Linked DNA regions of Homo sapiens: region 2 is reported to be linked to region 1. The links are microRNA targets in miRTarBase. Many come from high-throughput screens and were not tested one by one. Region 1 holds a microRNA gene; the other region holds the end of a gene's coding sequence.
What was found. Region 1 holds the annotated microRNA hsa-miR-518d-5p (CUCUAGAGGGAAGCACUUUCUG, at 1,563-1,584, opposite strand). A microRNA usually pairs through its seed, bases 2 to 8, with sites in the 3' UTR of a target mRNA and lowers its output. Matches are read on the target gene's strand: a 7mer-m8 pairs with bases 2 to 8, a 7mer-A1 pairs with bases 2 to 7 and ends in A, and an 8mer does both.

Region 1 (5,385 bases):
CGATGTTGAAGAATATACATTGTCATACGCACAAATATTCTCCAGAATAGATCACAGGCTTGGTCATAAAAACTCCTTAACACAATTTTAACATAAATACACAAGTACAGGTGGGGCACGGTGGCTCACACCTCTAATTCTAGCACTTTAGGAGGCCAAGACGGGAGAATCACCTGAGGTCAGGAGTTCGAGACCAGCCCCGGCAACATGGTGTAACCCCATGTGTACAAAAAATACAAAAGTGAGCCGGGTGTGGTGGTGCATGCCTGTAGACACTAATGCAGCAGGCTTAGGTGGAAGGCGGAGGTTGCAGTGAGCTGAGAACGCACCACTACACTCCAGCCTGGGTGATAGAGCCAGACCTTGTCTCAAAAATAACCAACCAAACAAATAAAACACACACACACAGAAACAAACCAAAAAATACCCAAAGTGATATCAGAGTATTCTCTGTATTCAAATCAGCATTTTGTGTGTATATGATTATGTTATATATATGATATATTATATATATGATAAATTTAACTGGGGGCTGGGTACGAACAAAATAACAGTCCTTACTTTCTTCTTGTCTGTGCATGGGTTAATATTCACATGTAGTCCCATCTACCTAGGACTGGGGAGGGGCAGAGGCAGGAGGATCTAAGACCACTTTAGCCAGGGCGGCACAGTGAGACCCCTGTCTCATGCATTTATTTCCTGGTCATGCACCCAAGATTTCAGCTTCATTTCCCCAATAAACACTGAAGCCCCATGCACTCCACCTCCGTGCTCTTGCTCATCCCATCTGCAGGGACACTGAGGTCCCCTCAACTCCACCTGACCCCATGTGAGGTTCTATACCAGTGCCAGAATAATTTCCATGCAGTAAAAGGTGTTGATGGCTGCGCAGTGGCTCATGCTTGTATTCTCTGGACAACATGGTGAAACCCCCTCTTTAGTGAAAAAAAAAAAAAATAATAATAATAATAATAATACAAAAAGTAGCCGGGCCTGGTGGTGTGTTCCTGTAATTCCAGCTACTCCAGAGGCTGAGGCAGGAGAATTGCTTGAACCTGAGAGGTACAGGTTGTAGTCAGCCGGGATCGTGCCACTGCCCTCTAGCCTGGTCGACAGCGAGACTCCATCTGAAAAGTAAATAAATACATGAATAAAAAAGAAAAATACAAATGTTAGCCAAGGATGATGTCAGGCGCCTGTAATCCCAGCTCCTCAGGAAGCTCAGGAAGGAGAATTGCTTGAGCCCAGGAGACAGAGGTTGCAGTGAGCCGAGATCACGCCACTGCACTCCAGCCTGGGTCACAGAGCAAGACTCTGTCCCAAAAAAGAGGACTATCTGAGCGCAAGAGACCTAGGTTGGAAGTGCTTATGGACTCCAGCCTGGAAAATACAGATTTTGTCTTAGGAGAAAAAAAAAAAAAAAAGCACAGAACCCCGATATCATCCAAGTCTGATGATAAGCATCCTCTACAAATGTATTACTGAAGTCAGCATCAACTTCAACATTGAGTTTCTCAAACCGTAACGCTCCAAAGGGAAGCGCTTTGGTTTCTTTCAGACAACAGAAAGTGCTTCCCTCTAGAGGGTCACAGCATGGGATCTTCTCACTCCAGCACTCTGGGTTTCTTGTTGGAATTTTCCTTGACCAGGTTAAAGTGGATAGAAAAATAAAAATATATTTATTGGTCCTGTTTGCCTGTTTTCTGGAATCCAGAACATAAACCCCTAAAAGGACCATCTCTGGTTCTTTGCTTCAAAGAATCAGCAGGTTAGCCTTGCTCATCAAGGGGCAATCCTCCTGAGTTTTGTCTCTGGAAAGAAAAAGCAATGCCTACTACACATACCTTATCTTTAACCAAGAGAATTGGGCTGAATTTCTAGAGAACAGCAATGGATGTACAGCCAAGTGTTCACTTGAGTTCCAGCACAGGGACACACAATCCCCTTGGGAGCCTCCAAAATAGAATCTAAGACGTTGAAGAATATAAATTGTCACACACACAAGCATCCTCCAGGATAGACCACAGTTTAGGCTGACTTAAGAGGACCACTTGAGGCTAGGCGCAGTGGCTCATGCCTGTAATCCCAGCAGTTTGGAAGGCTGAGGCAGGTGGATTACCTGAGGTTAGGAGTTTGAGACCAGTCTGGCCAACATGCTGAAACCCTGTCTCTACTAAAAACACAAAAATTAGCTGGGTGTGGTGGTGGACGCCTTTAATCCCAGCTACCCGGGAAGCTGAGGCAGGAGAATCGCTTGAACCTAAGAGAAGGAGGTTGCATTGAGCCGAGATTGTGCCATTGCACTCCAGCTTGGGCAACAAGAGTGAAACTCTGTCTCAAAATAAATAAATCAATAAAAATAAAGAAATACACAAGTACGGGTGAGGCACGGTGGCTCACACCTCTAATCCCAACATTTTATGAGGCCGAGGCAGGAGGATCACTTTAGCTCAGGTGTTGGAGACCAGCTCAGGTAAAATGGTGAAACCATTTTGTAGTCTCAGGTAAAATGGTGAAACCATTTTGTAGTCTCAGGTAAAATGGTGAAACCATTTTGTAGTCTGTAGAAAAACTACAAAAGTTAGCCAGGTGGCTGGGTGTGGTAGCTCATGCCTGTAATCCCAGCAATTTGGGAGTCCGAGGCAGGTGGATCACTAGAGGTCAGGAGTTGGAGACCAGCCTGACAAGCATGGGGAAACCTGTATCTACTCAAAATACAAAATTAGCCAAGTGTGATGGTGCATGCCTGTAATCGCAGCTACTTGGGAGGCTGAGGCAGGAGAATCACATGAACCCGGAAGGCGGAGGTTGCAGTGATCTGAAATCTTGCCATTGTACTCCAGCCTGTGCAACAAGAGCAAAATTCCCTCTCAAAAAAAAAAGGTAGCCCACTGTGGTGGTGCATGCCTGTAGACACACTAATTCAGGACGCATAGGTGGGAGATGGAGGTTACAGTAAGCCGAGATCGCACTACTACACTTTTGCCTGGGTGACAGAGCCAGACCTTGTCTCAAAAACAAACAAAAACCACACACACAAGAACAAAAAACAATCTCATAGTGATATGAGTAACCTCTACCTCCCAGGTTCAAGCGATTCTCCTGCCTCAGGCTCCCAAGTAGCTGGGATTACCCGTACCTGCCACCATGCCCGGCATATATACATATATATATATATGTATTTATCGTAGAGACGGATTTTCACCATGTTGGCCAGGCTGGTCTTGAACTCCTGACCTCGGGTGATCCACACGCCTCAGCCTCCCAAAGTGCTGGGATTACAGGCTTGAGCCACTGTGCCCAGCCACATCATACATTTTTGAGACCATGTCTCAAAGAAAATAAAGATCTACATATTGTATGCTCACAGGAAGAATAATACCTAAACATAAGTGCTTGCTTTGCTGGTGCACATAAAAAAAAATTGGATTGACAGAGATTACCCTGGCCCCCACACAGAGGTGACACCCAAATTCATGATGGTTCCATATTTATCTTTTATTTATTTATTTATTTTTTTTTTTTAGACCAAGTCTTACTCTGTCGACAGGCTGCAGTGCAGTGGCACGATCTTGGCTCACTGCAACCTCTGCCGCCCAGTTGGAACGATTCTCCTGCCTTGGTCTCCCGAGTAGCTGGTATTACAGGCACCTGCCACTGCACCTGGCTAATTTTTGTATTTTTCGTAGAGATGAGGCTTTGCCGTGATGCCGCAGCTGGTCTTCAACTCCTGACCTGAGGTGATGCCCCCGTCTCGACCTCCAAAAGTGCTAGCATTACAGGTGTGTGCCACCGTGCCTGGCCTATTTTTTATTTTTTTGAGATTGAATCTTATTCTTTTGCCCAGGCTGTAGTTCACTGGCGCGATCTCAGCTCACTGCAACCTCTGCCTCCCGGCTTCAAGCGATTCTCCTGCCTCATCCTCCTGAGTAGCTGGGATTACAGGCGTGCAGCACAACCACGCATGGCTAATTTTTGTATTTTTAGTACAGATGGGGTTTCACCATGTTGGCCAGGCTGGTCTCAAGCAGCTGACCTCAGGTGATCCTCCTGTCTCTGCCTACCAAAATGATGGAATTACAGGCGTGAGCCACCATACCTGACCTTGTCCTATGTTTAAAATCAGGAGCAAAAAAAGATGCTCACATCTAAACAGCAAATCATTTGTTGTTCAAGTACATCTCAAATACATTGTTTATCTAAAATACAAATTTAACTGGGGGTGGGACGTGAATCAAAGAACAGTCCTTACTTTCCTCTTCCTGTACGTGAGTTAATATTCACATGTAGTCCCAGCTACTAAGGACTGGGGAGGGGCAGAGGCAGGAGGATCTAAGCCCACATTAGCCTGGGCGGCATAGTGAGACGCCCGTATTGTTGCATATACGACCTGGTCATGCACCCAAGATTTTGGCTTTATTTCTCCAATAAAAACTCAAACCCCATGCATTCCACCTCCGTGTTCTTGCTAAGCAGTGCACATCCCACCTGCAAGGACATTGGGGTCCCCTTCAACTCTACCTGACCCCAAGCGAGGTTCTATAAACCAGTGCCAGAATAATTTCCGTGGACCAAAAGGTGTTAATGGCCAGGCACGGTGGCTCACGCCTGTATTCTCAGCACTTTGGGAGGCCCAGGCGGGCAGATCACCTAAGGTCAGGAGCTGAGTTCAGCCTGGCCAACATGGTGAAACCACGTCTCTGCTAAAAATACAAAAATTAGGCCAGGCATGGGGGCGCATACCTGTGATCCCAGAAATTTGGGAGTCAGAGGTGGGTGGATCACTTGAGGTCAGGAATTTGAGACCAGCCTAGCCAACACGGTGAAATCCAGTCTCTACTTAAAAAAAATATACAAAAAGTAACTAGGTGCGGTGGTGTGCTTCTGTAATTCCAGCTACTCAGGAGGCTGAGGCAGAAGAATTGCTTGAACCGGGGAGGCAGAGGTTGCAGTGAGCCGAGATTGTGCCACTGCCCTCCAGACTGGGTGACAGCGAGACTCCGTCTCAAAAATAAATAAATAAATAAATTTTAAAAAATACAAATATCATCCAGGTATGGTGATGAACGCCTGTAATCTCAGCTGCTTGGGAAGCCGAGGCAGGAGAATTGCTTGAACCTGGGAGGCAGAGGTTGCAGTGAGCCGAGATCGCCTCACTGCATATCAGCCTGGGTGACAGAGAAAGACTCTGCCCCCTAAAAAGGACCATTTGAATTCAAGAGACCTGGGTTGGACATGTCACTGCACTCCAGCCTGGGCAACAGAGATCCTGTCTTAGAATAAAAAAGCAAAACCGAAAACAGAACCCCGGCATTGTCCAAGCCTGATGATAAGCATGCTCTGCAAATGTATTACCACGATCGGCATCAGCTTCAGTGTTGTTTT
Region 2 (5,385 bases), not on the chromosome of region 1:
AAGTAAGAATTACTGCTTATAATGTCTGGGCAGTAACCAACCATTTCAGCAGCTGGCTTGCTACTAGCCTCAGCATGTTTTATTTGCTCAGGATTGCCAATTTCTCCAACCTTATTTTTCTTCGCATAAAGAGGAGAGTTAAGAGTGTTGTTCTGGTGATACTGTTGGGGCCTTTGCTATTTTTGGTTTGTCATCTTTTTGTGATAAACATGGATGAGACTGTATGGACAAAAGAATATGAAGGAAACGTGACTTGGAAGATCAAATTGAGGAGTGCAATGTACCATTCAAATATGACTCTAACCATGCTAGCAAACTTTGTACCCCTCACTCTGACCCTGATATCTTTTCTGCTGTTAATCTGTTCTCTGTGTAAACATCTCAAGAAGATGCAGCTCCATGGCAAAGGATCTCAAGATCCCAGCACCAAGGTCCACATAAAAGCTTTGCAAACTGTGACCTCCTTTCTTCTGTTATGTGCCATTTACTTTCTGTCCATGATCATATCAGTTTGTAATTTTGGGAGGCTGGAAAAGCAACCTGTCTTCATGTTCTGCCAAGCTATTATATTCAGCTATCCTTCAACCCACCCATTCATCCTGATTTTGGGAAACAAGAAGCTAAAGCAGATTTTTCTTTCAGTTTTGCGGCATGTGAGGTACTGGGTGAAAGACAGAAGCCTTCGTCTCCATAGATTCACAAGAGGGGCATTGTGTGTCTTCTAGCAGAAAACAAACTGGTGGTGTATGAAACATTTTATATTTCTTACTGGGTTTTCTGTAATATATGTATATGAATAATTTCCACATGTATACCTAGAAAAGTCTTTTACCTAAAGTTAGTCTAGAAAAGTACATATATATAGATGTGTGTGTGTGTGTGTGTGTGTATGAAAAACTGAAGAACATTGACAATAACATGCTTTTTATTGTTTTTTCACAAAAACTGCCAAATTATAGAAAATATGACAAAAATTCCTCAATTATGAAGCCATGTTTATTTCATACATGTATTTTATATTTCATTTGTAGAATTTATATCTATTTATAATTATTAAGAACTAACAGCTTATCTCAGGAAAAATATTGCTCTTTTCTATTGTTATTTGAATGACACAAATATACCACAGTGTGCTTACAATCTGTTGTTTTAACCTATAACTTTTTGATAATAAGGTCGTTCAATTCTTAATCACTAATGAGGATGTATCTTCAGGGTTTTATTCCATTATGAATTCCTATTTTATGTTTAGTAAAAAGCAATCAGAATTATTGTTACAAAACAATGAACACAATAAAATTTGAGTGAGAAGTATACGTATAGTAAATTTCATGTATGTGTACCATAAACAGTACTGAGGAATATTAGATTTAATACAAGTATGTGAATAGCTTAGAAAAAAATCTCTGCTATAAGAGGGATGAAAAATCATGATCATGATCTTGATTGCTATTATCAGCTTCCATATGCAGTTAGAACAGTCATTTCTTCCAGCTTTTCAATTAAAGAAAAACTTTTTTTGAAATTGAGCTCAGATGTAAATTATTTTAGTATTTTTTCTAAAGCACTTCTAAGCCCCTGAATTGCTAATTATATCCTTATCTTCCATTTTTAAAATTCTTTCTAAACTTCAGATAAGAGAACTCCAGTCTTCCGTTTTCTAAAAAAAAATCTGTCAATGTGAAAATAGTATAAAAATTATGGAAAATAATTCAGTGAAACTTTTTTTAAGTGTTAAAATAGTATCTATGAAATCTATGTATTAATTATGGGATTTGTCCTAGTGTAATTTTGTTGTCAATGATTAAATGGAATTGTCTTGACATATTCATTAATGGGAAGTTCTATTATAAGAAGGAAATGTACAGTCTTGTTTACAGCTAAATTCTACATGACTGTATTAATTCTTGGTGTTATGAAATTTTAACAATGTTGTTCAGACCTTAAGATAAATCATCCCCACACCTGATTCATGTATTTTTTAGAATCATGTATCTTCCTCAGTACAATGTAAGAACCATAAAAGAAGAGATCGTGTCTGTCAGGCTTTCTGTTGACTCCCAGGACCTAGAACCCAGCACAAGGAATAGATGGTCAAAAATGATATTTTAATGAACAAATAAATGGGTGGATAAAATGGGTAAGCTGATGTGGTAAACCAATGAAAGGGAAACTCATCACAAAATCTGCAGTTGCATGAGTTCCCCTGTTCTGGTCTCAGGTTAAGATTACAGGCTTATCCAAGCAGAATCCTTCCTCAGAGGAAAAGTTTGGCTATTCCACAATTTTAGGGGAAATATCACAATAATATAGTCTTGATGCAGCTGTATCAGGTGTCTGAATTGGCGACAAGGTAGAACATCAAAATTAGATGCCACTATTACAATATTTTAAAAAAGCATATAAAAGACTTTGGTCTATTTGCGTATGTATTTTTTTCTATTGTGAATTATATATTTGTATTATGATATTTTCTAGTTGATTATCATATAAAAATGGCATTTCATTTCAAAAAATTGAGTTAGTAACCAGCTACTTTACTAAAATGTTTTTAACGTAATACCTGATATTAAAGTGATGACATTTATATGGAAGGCCAATTCAAGACAAAAATGGCAGGGACATGTGGAAATTGAGACAAGAACCGATGTGAAACAATGTGTGGTGATGTCTGGTATGACTGCTGGCAGCCACTTCACAGTGAGGTGAGAGAGACAGCATGGTGGTCATCAGATGCATGCACTTGACTCCCAGAACTTTTCCAGAAGGGCTACAAAGGGAAACCACAGCTGGCATTAGTCCATGGAAGAGAGAGAGAGGAGGGAGAATGTATCTGCTCAGCTGTCGTTAGTCTTCTGTTTCCCCTTGGCCAGGGTTTCCCTGAGTTAGAACTACCATCTCTGTTGTTCTGTCTTACATCATCCAGTCCCTTGGTGGTGGTCATGAAAGTCAGACCTCATGCCCACAGTGTGGTGATGCATTCAAGTCCCAAATGGAAGGATGATCTGGATCAGGCAAGGTGCTGACCAGGGGAACAGGAGATAGTGAAGGGAATCTGAGAAAGCACATGTTTGTGTCCAATACCACCACTCCTTGTGCCACTGAGACGTGCTCATACCCTCCAGTCATGGCTGGCTTTATGAGCATATGACTTGCACAGTTGTACAGGGTTTTGTGCTTATAGGGGCTTGTGCTTAGAGTGACTCTATGCTTGGATTAATGTTCTGCACTTGCTGTTTGGCTTTTCAGACAGAGTATACTTCAGCATTCCCTCTGCTGAAGAGGGAATGGTCTTACACTGGTCTTACACTGATTCCATAGGGATTTGCTCTCCCCTCTCCTACAGGCTTGTCAGAGACATGCACAGAGTCCTATAATGCCCACTATGCATGCCTCTAGCAGCTTTGAATTCCGCTGGATCATCTGGCACAGTGGCCAGAGCAGCCTGGACCAGAGCCTATATCTTCTGTAGAGCCCTCTTTAGTTCTGGGCTCCATTTGAGACCAGTAGCCTTTAGAAACATCGTTCGTGAGTCAGAGCAATATTCTCAAATGTGGAATATGTTGTCTCCAAAATCCCAGTAGGCCCCCAAAACATAGTGTCTCTTTTGTAGTGATAGGAAATATATAGAGAGAGCAAAATGCCGTTTACTGTAAAAAAGATTGTCTCAGCATGTGGACTAGGGACACTAAAAACCTTAAAACATCACCTATGTTGTCGGTCCCTGAATCTTCTCTGATTTATCTATTTTCTTCTGGTATTTTACTTCTGCTCAATGTTATAATATTTTACTATACTGAAGAAACTTGCCATTTCCTGATTATTGTACCAACTAATATATTATTATTGGTATTATTTTGAGACACGGTCTCTTTCTGTCCCTGAGGCTGGAATGCAGTGGCAGGATCACAGCTCATTGCAGCCTCAACCTTCTGGGCACAAGTGATTCTCCCACTTCGGCATTGCTGGCAGCTGGGACTGCAGGGGCACAACACCATGCCTGGCTAATTTTGGTATTTTTTGTAGGGCTGGGATGTCACCGTGTTACCCAGGCTGGTCTCAAACTCCTGGGCTCAAGTGATCTGCCTGTGTCGGCCTCCTAAAGTGTTGGGATTACAGTCATATGCCACAGGGCCCGGTCTGTAATATTATCAATACATTAAACTGGCAGGATGTTTTAAAAAATGTAAATTAAACTGAGAACAGAAGTGACATAGCCCTGACATACAACAGTGAAGCAGTGCTATTATTCTTACAAGGCAAATTGTTTTGATTTTCCCTCATAATGGGTGTAGATTAAGAACCATTCACCAAATCACTAGCCCCACAAAAAGTACCAGAAGCTCTGCTCTGCTCAGTGAAGATAGCACATCCTGGAAAGCATTTGTGAGTGTTGATTTAAGTTTATGGTAGTCTGCATTCATTCGATAACCCATCTGGTTTTGGTAGAGGCCAGATAGGTTAAGTGAATCGGGTTATAGAAAAGACTACCATCCCCTGTAACTTTCAGGTGTTTTGTCATGACAGTGACCAGTTCCATTCCTTAGGGAATGCGGTTATTATATTTTATATATTTTGTTGCCAGTAGAGGAGAATTTCAGAGGCTTTCCCTTGGTCCTGCTATAATAATGTTCCTTACTCTACAGTTCACGAAGAATGTGAGAGTCCTGCCAGCTGCCATACGTATCCATTTCAATTCAGGAAGAGGTAATAACTACAAACTGATTAGATCCACCTTGGGATGGACATGAGCCGAAGCTCTAGGTAGCATCTGACCTTCAAAACTCCCACTGCGGGCTGGATGTGATGGCTCATGCCTGTAGTCCTAGTACTTTGGGAGGCCAAGGTGTGAAGATCCCTTGAGAGCAGGAGTTCCCTGTGCATCATATGGAAACTCCGTCTCTACAAAAAATTTTAAAAATTACCTGGCATGGTGGTACATGCCTATAGTTCCAAATAGTTGAGAAGCTGAGGCAGGAGGATTGCTTGAGCCCAGGAGTTCCAGGCTGCAGTGGGCTATGATTGTGCCACTGTACTCCAGCTTGGGTAACAGAGGGAGATGCTGTCTCAGAACAAAAAAAAAGGTGGAAGTTCTCACTGGTGTCAAATATCAAGAGAAACAGGATCAAATCAATAATTAACAATCTTTGGTTCCTGCTTATAGCAAACAGGTAAAATTGAAAGTAGTTACAGAAATAGTATATTAACTCCTAACAAAACTAACCAATGAAAGTTTTATTATCATCTCCTTTTTGTTGTTATTTTGATACGGAGTCTCGCTCTGTCTCTCAGGCTAGAGTGCAGTGGCGTGATCTCGACTAACTATAACCTCTGCCTTCTGGGTTCAAATGATTCTCCTGCTGCAGTCACCGAGTGGCTCGGATT

Region 2: miRTarBase lists TAS2R30 as a target of hsa-miR-518d-5p. Seed matches in the 3' UTR shown: 7mer-A1 at 843-849.

What each region holds. Positions count from the first base shown.
Region 1 is chr19:53,731,091-53,736,475 of GRCh38, reverse strand. It overlaps MIR518D (microRNA 518d), which reads right to left and starts at 1,599; the gene lies at 1,513-1,599. It also overlaps the pseudogene RNU6-980P.
Region 2 is chr12:11,128,625-11,134,009 of GRCh38, reverse strand. TAS2R30 (taste 2 receptor member 30) reads left to right here. Exons shown (of 1, transcript NM_001097643.2): 1 at 1-1,052. The coding sequence ends at 725. All of the region lies in intron 1 of PRH1-TAS2R14 (PRH1-TAS2R14 readthrough), which reads left to right. All of the region lies in intron 1 of PRH1-PRR4 (PRH1-PRR4 readthrough), which reads left to right. It also overlaps a transcript of PRH1 not described here. Among named protein-coding and RNA genes, the nearest start is that of TAS2R30, 3.3 kb to the left of the region's middle.